2 linked regions of the Homo sapiens genome follow. The protein of the gene in region 1 purifies or fractionates together with the protein of each later gene. This does not show direct contact. Each region holds a gene or a part of one and is shown on either strand. Other genes may lie near its edges.

What was found. Proteins that work in one complex are often made in the same cells at the same time.
Region 2: the proteins of ZNF563 (region 1) and LRP1B purify together in Homo sapiens (affinity purification with mass spectrometry; 2 studies listed by BioGRID and IntAct, with this or other methods). This does not show direct contact.

The regions. Positions count from the first base shown.
Region 1 is NC_000019.10:12,319,430-12,324,497, forward strand, and holds part of ZNF563 (zinc finger protein 563), read right to left. Parts: intron 3,283-5,068; coding exon 3,156-3,282; intron 1,904-3,155; coding exon 1,843-1,903; intron 405-1,842; coding exon 1-404. UniProt on the Homo sapiens protein: May be involved in transcriptional regulation.
Region 2 is NC_000002.12:140,230,857-140,234,516, reverse strand, and holds the end of LRP1B (low-density lipoprotein receptor-related protein 1B precursor), read left to right. Parts: intron 1-1,190; coding exon 1,191-1,331; 3' UTR 1,332-3,094; downstream 3,095-3,660. UniProt on the Homo sapiens protein: Potential cell surface proteins that bind and internalize ligands in the process of receptor-mediated endocytosis.

The DNA of each region.
Region 1 (5,068 bases):
ATTTATAAGGTCTATTTCCACCTTGCACTACCATGTGTCTTCGAAGGTTTCTACGAGAACTGAAGGTTTTTCCACATTCCTTACACTCATAGCGTTTCTTTCCAGTGTGAGGCCTTCCACGCGACTGAAAGGAGTGATGGTAACTGAAGGCTTTCCCACGTTGTTTATGTGTATGTGGCTTCTCTCCATATTCCTGATACTCATGTGGTTTGTGTCCAGAATCAACTCTGATGTGGCTATTAAGGGATAAATGACCCATTATGACTTCTTCACACTCAGCGCTTTGACATGGATCTTCTCCAGGACAAATGCTGTTGTTCACAATACTATCTCGAATGAGGCTAAATGTTTCTCCACACTGACTACTGTCTTTACTTTCACTGAATCTCTCTACCATATGACATCTGTAAAAAATGAGTAGTACGTTACTAAATAGTTGTTTCTAAATGATTATTTATTTATGTGTATTAATAGGTATTGGATGTACTTTTTTTTTTTTTTCCCTGAGATGGAGTCTTGCTCTGTCACCCAGGCTAGAGTGCAGCGGCACGATCTCGGCTCACTGCAATCTCTTCCTCCCGGGTTCAAGCGATTCTCCTGCCTCAGCCTCCCAAGTAGCCGGGATTAGAGAGGCATACGCCACCACGCCCAGCTAATTTTGTATTTCTAGTAGAGACAGGGTTTTGCCATGCTGGCCAGGCTGTTCTCGAACTTCTGACCTCGTGATCCACCCCCCCTTGGCCTCCCAAAGTGCTGGGATTACAGAAGTGAGTCACTGCGCCTGGCCAGATATACCTTTTTATCATTACCATGCAAAGTGTAGGCTTCATGCCCTGTTTGAACATGAATGAACTGAATGCTATGCAAGACAACCCAACACCAGCTGGGTTTTTTTTTTTTCCTTTTCTTTTTAATTAATTAATTTATTTTTTGAAACAGTATCTTGCTTTGTCACCAGGCTGGAGTGCAGTAGCAGAACGATGGTTCATGCAACCTTGACCTCCTGAACTCAAGTGATCTACCTACTTCAGCCTCATGAGTAGCTGGAACCATAGGTGTGCACCAACACACTTGGCTAATTTTTTTTTTGAGACGGAGTCTTGCTCTGTCGCCAGGCTGGAGTGCAGTGGCGCAATCTCGGCTCACTGCAACCTTCGCCTCCTGGGTTCATGCAATTCTCCTGCCTTGGCCTCCCAAGCAGCTGGGGTTACAGGTGCATACCCCCATGCCCAGCTAACTTTTGTACTTTTGTAGAGACAGGGTTTCACTATGTTGGCCAGGCTGGTCTCAAACTCCTGACCTCAAGTAATCTGCCTGCCTCAACCTCCCAAAGTGCTGGGATTACAGGCATGAGCCACCATGTCCAGCCTCATATGTAAATTCTTATAAAATGTTTTAGGAGGAAATTTTTTAAGAATAAATAAATTTAGGCTGGTGCAGTGACTCACACCTGTAATCCCAGCATTTGGGGAGGCCAAGGCAGGCAGATTGCTTGAGCCCAGGAATTCAAGACCAGCCTGGGAAACATGCCAAAACCCTGTCTCTACAAAAAATACAAAAATTAACGAGGTGTGGTGGCTTGCACGTGTAGTCCTGGCTACTCAGGAGGCTCTGGTGGGAGGGTCACATGAACCTGGGAGGTCGAGTCTTCAGTGAGCCAAGATCATGCCACTGCACTCCAGCCTGGGCAACAGAGCAAGGCCCTGACTAAAAAAAAAAGTTAATTTAAAAAATTAAAAAATAAATTTAAGCTGGACTTGTTCATTTTCTTTGTTTTTAAAATTTCCTTTTACTCTGAGAATCACTTCAGAAACATAACTTTCTCCTGTGAGTGCAAATTACCTTAGATTTCTCCTAGGATTTTTGTACTGATCTTCAGTATTCTGTTCTTCCCATATCATTCCTAAAAGGGAGACCCAGAAAATCACTATACATTATTAGAAAATTATATAAAACAGTAAGATTTTATGTATACTGCAATCATACATGATTCGTTCATCAAACTACAGTTAATTCTGTACAGTTTGGGGGTGGAGGCAGAGTCTCACTCTGTTGCCCAGGCTGGAGTGCAGTGGCACGATCTCGGCTCACAGCAACCTCCGCCTCCTGGGTTCAAGCGATTCTCCTGCCTCAGCCTTCCGAGTAGCTGGGACTACAGATGCGTGCCACCACAACCAGCTAATGTTTGTATTTTTATTGGAGACGGGGTTTCACCATGTTGGTCAGGCTGGTCTCAAACTCCTGACCTCAAGTGATCTTCCCACCTCAGCCTCCCAAAATGCTGGGATTACAGGCATGAGCCACCATACCCGGCCTTACAGTTGATTCTTGAACAACACATGTTTGAACTGCACAGCTCCACCTACATATGAATTTTCTTCAGTCTCTGCTACCCCTAAGACACCAAGATCAATCCCTCCTCTTACTTAGCCTTCTCAATGTAAAGATAAGGATAAAGACCTTTTAATCATACACTTAATGAATAGTAAATATAGTTTCTCTTCTTTATGATTTTCCTATCAATATTTTCTTTCTCTAGTTCACTTTATTGTGAGAATATAGTATGTAATACATGACTTACAATATGTGGATTAATATGGATTAATCAACTTTTTTTTATTATTTTATTTTATTTTATTTTTTTGAGACAGATTCTCGCTCTGTCACCCAGGTTGGAGTGCAGTGGCGTGATCTTGGCTCACTGCGACCTCTGCCTCCTGGGCTCAAGTGATTCTGCTACCTTAGCCTCCTGAGTACCTAGGATTACAGGCATGCGCCACCACGCCTGGCTAATTTTTGTATTTTTAGTAGAGATGGGGTTTCACCACGTTGGTCAGGCTGGTCTCGAACTCCTGACCTCATGATCCGCCCACCTTGGCCTCCCAACATGCTGGGATTACAGGTGTGAGCCACCGTGCCCAGCCAGTCAACTGTTTATGTTACCAGTAAGGCTGCTGGTCAATGGCGGCTTAAGCTATGGTGGACAAAAAGTTAGATGAGGATGTACAACTTCTTTCAGGGCTGTCACCTCTGAATTCTGTGTTGTTCAAGAGTCCATCATATGCCCTTTCCATATTTCAAATCATTGAACAGCACTGATGACCATGAAACAAATGTCTGTAATTGATTAAGTGAAGACATGGTATCATCCTTACTTATACAGTCCAGGTTCCTGATGGTTTCTTGCATCACATATCTGTATAAATTCTTCTGTGATGGACCCAGCAAAGCCCATTCCTCCTGGGTGAAGTTCACAGCCACATCCTCAAAGGCCACTGCGTCCTGAAACATCCCACATAGATAGAGGAGAAAGGTTGAGTGACAGTACTGAAAAAACTATACTCAGTTCATAAACTTCATATGATGCTGTGCTTTCCAAGCATTTATTCAATGATGTAGTAAACTCTCTCATATTCTCTTTACACTCACTTTCTCTCACACAGCCATTTTGATGGTAGAATTCAACATGTTTGGTAAAGTTACAGTTGAATAGGAACAGGTCTCTTCTTGGTGAGTTAAATGAGTCTTATTGCCTGCATCACCCTAATGTCTATTTCTGTAGTAGGTTGTAGTTCTTGTCAAAGTCCTACTGACAAAGTCCTACTACCTATTGTGCAGAAGAGAGCTACCATTAGCAGTCCTGAGACTGCATGTCCTTACAAATTCTTATTCTCAAAGTTGGACCTTTTATGGTGTCTAGGAACTGGATTTAGGGAGTGCCCCACCAATGTAACTAATAACAGAGCTCGATTGTATCTAAACTGTTTGTGCAAAAAGTACATTATTTTCTTAACTCCTATGTTCTGAGAGTTTAGAATCTTACAAACTCAGCAGAGGGAGTGTATGTGATCAGCCACTGCTGAGTTTGAATGGTTGTCCCCTCCAAAACACATGTTGAAAGTTAATCCGCAAAGTGGGAGTAATAAAAGGTGGGGATTGAAAAGGTGATTGAGTCTTGAAGGTTCAGAGCTCATGAATAGATTAATGTATACATGGATCAATGGCTTAATGAATAAATAAGTTATCTCAGGAAGGGGACTGGTGTCCTTATAAGATGGAAGAGACCCGAGTTAGGCACTCCGGCCCTTGCCATGTAATGCTTTATGCCATCTAAGAACTCTGCAGAGTCCCCACCAGCAAGAAGGTTCTCACCAGATGCCCAGCCTTAACCTTGGACTTCCCAGCCTCCAGAACAGTAAAAAACAAATATTGTTCCTTATAAATTATCCAGGTTCAGATTATTCTTAAGCAACAAAAAACAGACTAAGCCAGCCACCAAAAAACACTATAGGCACTGGGTCTCTAATGAGAGACCCTGGTAGATAAAATTTCACATGTTTTTTTGCAACTGATTAGTTGGAGGATTCGGCACATCCTCTGGGATTATACTAACAGAAAATCTGGAAGCTGGTAACTGGTTTCCTCTAGACCAAATGTAGTTAAGCATGACAAATAAATAATAAAAGATATTTCACCATCCCAATGGAAAATTTTTGAACATCTTATTGGGTAATGTCAAAGGAGAAGGAAAGAAGGTCAATGAGAGAATGTAATATTAGAAAAGAACTCAATGTTATCTCTTATGAATATTTATAAAATTCCCTAAATAACTAAAACAGACCTAAATAACCAAAAATTTCACTACCAGCTAGGTACCATGGCTCATGCCTGTAATCTCAGTACTTTGAGAGGCCAGGGCAGATGGACCATTTGAGCCCAGGAGTTTGAGACCAGCCTGGGCAACATGGCGAAACCCTGTCTCTGCAAAAAAATACAAAAAAATTAGCCGGGCATGGTGGTGTGCCTGTAGTCCCAGCTAATTGGGAAGCTGAGGTGGGAGGATCACCTGAGCCCAGGATGTGAAGACTGTAATGAACCATTATTGAGCCACTGCATTCTAGCATGGGTGATACAGTGAGACTCTGTCTCAAAAAAATAAATAAAATTACATTATCAAATCTAATAGAAGTCACAAATGTCTAAAAATGCTAAAAAACCTCCTCACTGGCCGGGTGCGGTGGCTCACACCTGTAATCCCAGCACTTTGGGTGGCTGAGGTGGGCGGATC
Region 2 (3,660 bases), on another chromosome or scaffold:
TGTTATTCTTAGCAAAGAAGCTCTAGCCAGAAATTAAAACTGAATAAACTTTTGATTTTATTCATTTCCTCTCATAGTGGTTTATTTAATATATACAAATTTGACGTGCAGTTAAATAGACTATACTTTAAAATGTGTCATCATATTGAGAAATTACAGACGGTCTAACAAAACCACTCTCAAAAACATGTTTCAATTAAGTAACTGGTGTTTAGAGAAAGCTGTTCTGTCTAAAGTTACATAGTTCATTTTAAGCAGAAGAGGAATAAAAATATGCATTATCAAGATTCCTAGGGATGAGAATTCTCTCCCTTATCGTCTTTCCCATCAACTGTTTTCATCCTCATTTTCTATCATGTTTGTCTCAATTGCATGGCTCAAAGATTATAATGTTTCCTTGTTGTAACTAAGATTTAATGTACTGTTTTTGGAAAGACGAAACAAAAAATAAGGAAAACAAACACTAGGCAAAATTTTCTTGGGATAAACTGCAATTTGTTAAATAGTGAACATTGTATGTATATGTTTTCCAACTCAAAGAGGTCAGCTGCTGCATGCCTCTAATTCTACTTCAAAATGCTATGTTTGTGAAACTTAAGATGACTGTGTACATCACAATTCTTTGAAAAAGTCCAAAAATATTTCTAATAAGTACACACAGGTTGTTTGAGGCAAAAATATTGCTTTAAAAATCTGATACACTAATGCATTTCTTTACATTTTTGTTTACTTGTTTTTAAGTTCATGTTGAAAAATTATAAGCACCAAACAAATGTTTTTCTGAAAACACATCTTACTTGCCACGGATAGGCTTGTAATAGCAATAAGGGGGACAACACAAAAACTGAAAACATGACAATTTAGTTTCACATTTTATGCTTTTATAATAAAGTCTCAGTGAACATAGCTTTTACAAAGATTTTTTTCTGGCTTTTTGTATATGGCAAAGCTCCTCTTAGGTTCACAAGTTACTTGCAAAATGTAAAATTATGTTTCATTTAATACCATGCTTGAGTTGAGTAAAGTCTGTAAATGTAACATGTAAATAACCTTTAAATCATTACTATTTAATAAATTAAATGTATTGCATATAAATATTGTTACGATTAGGAGATGGACATTCTAGGAAGTAAATAATTAATGTGGCCAAGACCAGTAATAAAATTATATTTATTTTTTTTCTCCTTCAGCCAACAAATTACTCCAATCCGGTATATGCAAAATTATATATGGATGGGCAAAACTGTCGAAACTCCTTAGGAAGTGTTGATGAAAGGAAAGAACTGCTTCCAAAGAAAATAGAAATTGGTATAAGAGAGACAGTGGCATAATCAGTGATATCTTTTATATGCTGTATAAATGTATAAAATATAAGGATTACTTTTGTATGTTCCAACAGTATTATACTTGTTTTGGCATCAGCATTACCTCTTTCTTTATCTTTTTCCTGGTTAATTGTTTTCTGAGTTTTTTGGGTTTTATTTTTTGCTGATGACTATTGATTGACCATTTGTATGGTATTTTTATGAAAAAGAACTGCACTACAGTACAATTTACAACAATGCTGCTGATATGACACACCTTTGAATTTGTTAAAATTAAAAACAACGTATTCCTTTGTAGTGTGAATATGAGCAATCTATTTTATATGAACTTTTTTGGTTGTACTTAATCAACGAGGAGAATCTCTGCACTTTTCCATTATACGGTTTGAAGGCTGTAATACAGTGTCATATTATTTTTCTGTTTAAATTGATGGAAAAATGATTGAATGGTCAACTCTCTTCTTTGTGCCCATAAAGATCGATTCAGACTCTGCTGAAAATATATAGCTCTCACAAGTTCAGCATCACCTGCTTTGAAATTAGCCTTAGATTGCCAACCAATAGATGAGAATTTTGAGGAAAAAAATTAAAAATATGTAAAATTAATAATTTGCATGAACACAGATGACTACATTTTCCAAAACTTAGTGGACTCTATGTGATGTACTAAATGTATACACCTTGTAAGCAATAGTTATATTTAGGTGGTAGAACATAGCAAAAATATAACCGAAAGTTGGCCGACTGCACTTGCTATGGAATAAGACCTTTTATTCTCCCTCAGTCTCGAGATAAATAGCCAGCCTAGAGCACAACAGGGCATTGGGTACTTGCATCTTAGGTATTTCTTCCCAGTCACATCCATTTTGTGGAAGATTAACCCAACCCCTTACACTACACTGAACACTAAAGAATAATATATAAGCACACAAATTGGTGACAGAATTTCAATTACGTGAACGCATCCTCTTTGCTAGGTCAAAAAACAAAGGGCAAAGCAGACATTTTAGTATACAGAGTGATTGGCAAATATTTTCAAGATTTAATATGAGCAACCCATTATTTGCCCTATCCAAAATATATTCAAGGGCCTTCCAAGTTGTAGAAGAACAATGATCTTCCCATAATCAAAAGTGGAGAGTCGAAATGCTGTGCCAGTTGCTCTGGTATTCAGGTTTCTCTGGGTTTTACAGAACGCATGGACCCCATTCACGTTTGGTTTGTTTATCTTCAAATTTGAGTTGAAACGAGTGCGATTTATTTAAGTTGTATATAAAAATAAAAGGATAGCATTTTTATACAAATATCTTTAAAGGCACAAAAGATTTATTCACAAGTTTTGGAGGGCTTTTTGTTCCTCTGATAGACATGACTGACTTTTAGCTGTCATAATGTATTAACCTAACAGATGAAATATGTTAAATATGTGGTTGCTCTTTATCCCTTTGTACAAGCATTAAAAAAACTGCTGTTTTATAAGAAGACTTTTTGTTGTACTATGTGCATGCATACTACCTATTTCTAAACTTTGCCATATTGAGGCCTTTATAAACTATTGATTTATGTAATACTAGTGCAATTTTGCTTGAACAATGTTATGCATATCATAAACTTTTTCAGGTTCTTGTTTAAGTACATTTTTTAAATTGAACAGTATTTTTCATTTTGGTTATAATATAGTCATTTTGCCTATGTTTCTACAATGAAGTGTTAAATACTTTATAAAAAATTGTTGACTGACTTATTTAAATGAAATTCTACATATTTAAGAGCTTGTGTTGGGTAGTTTTTAAAAATAAGAAAATTCCTTTATGTAGCTTAAATATTCTGAGAGAACTGTTTTAGTAAACACGGCATTTTTATATCCTTAGAACATAATACACTCCAGGGGAAAACTGATTTCATTGTATCATCTTTCAATGCACAGTAGAGAAGGCATTTTCTGTCTTCATGGAGTAGAAACACTCCCCTTACTTTATCCTTTTCCCTGCCTTCCTGTGCCTGTCAGAGTCTCCATATTGCAATAGAAAGAAAGGTTCTATACACAGTAGCATGACAACCATGCTAAACAAGCCAAAGCTCTTCCTGTCCCTTTCTATTCCCCAAAACTGTACTTTATGGAAAATCAGATTTCCATTAGACGCTATTTCCACATTATTTTGTTAGAATGGTTATTTGCTATACCTACTTTTAGCATCAGACTAGAGATGGAAAATATAGGTGCGTCTGATTTACTTAACATTGAGTTATATTATTTGAAGGGGCCTTCTGATGTCAGAGCTGTGTAAATGCAACTGAAAATATTTCAAAGAACCCACAGAGTGGTGTGATATTA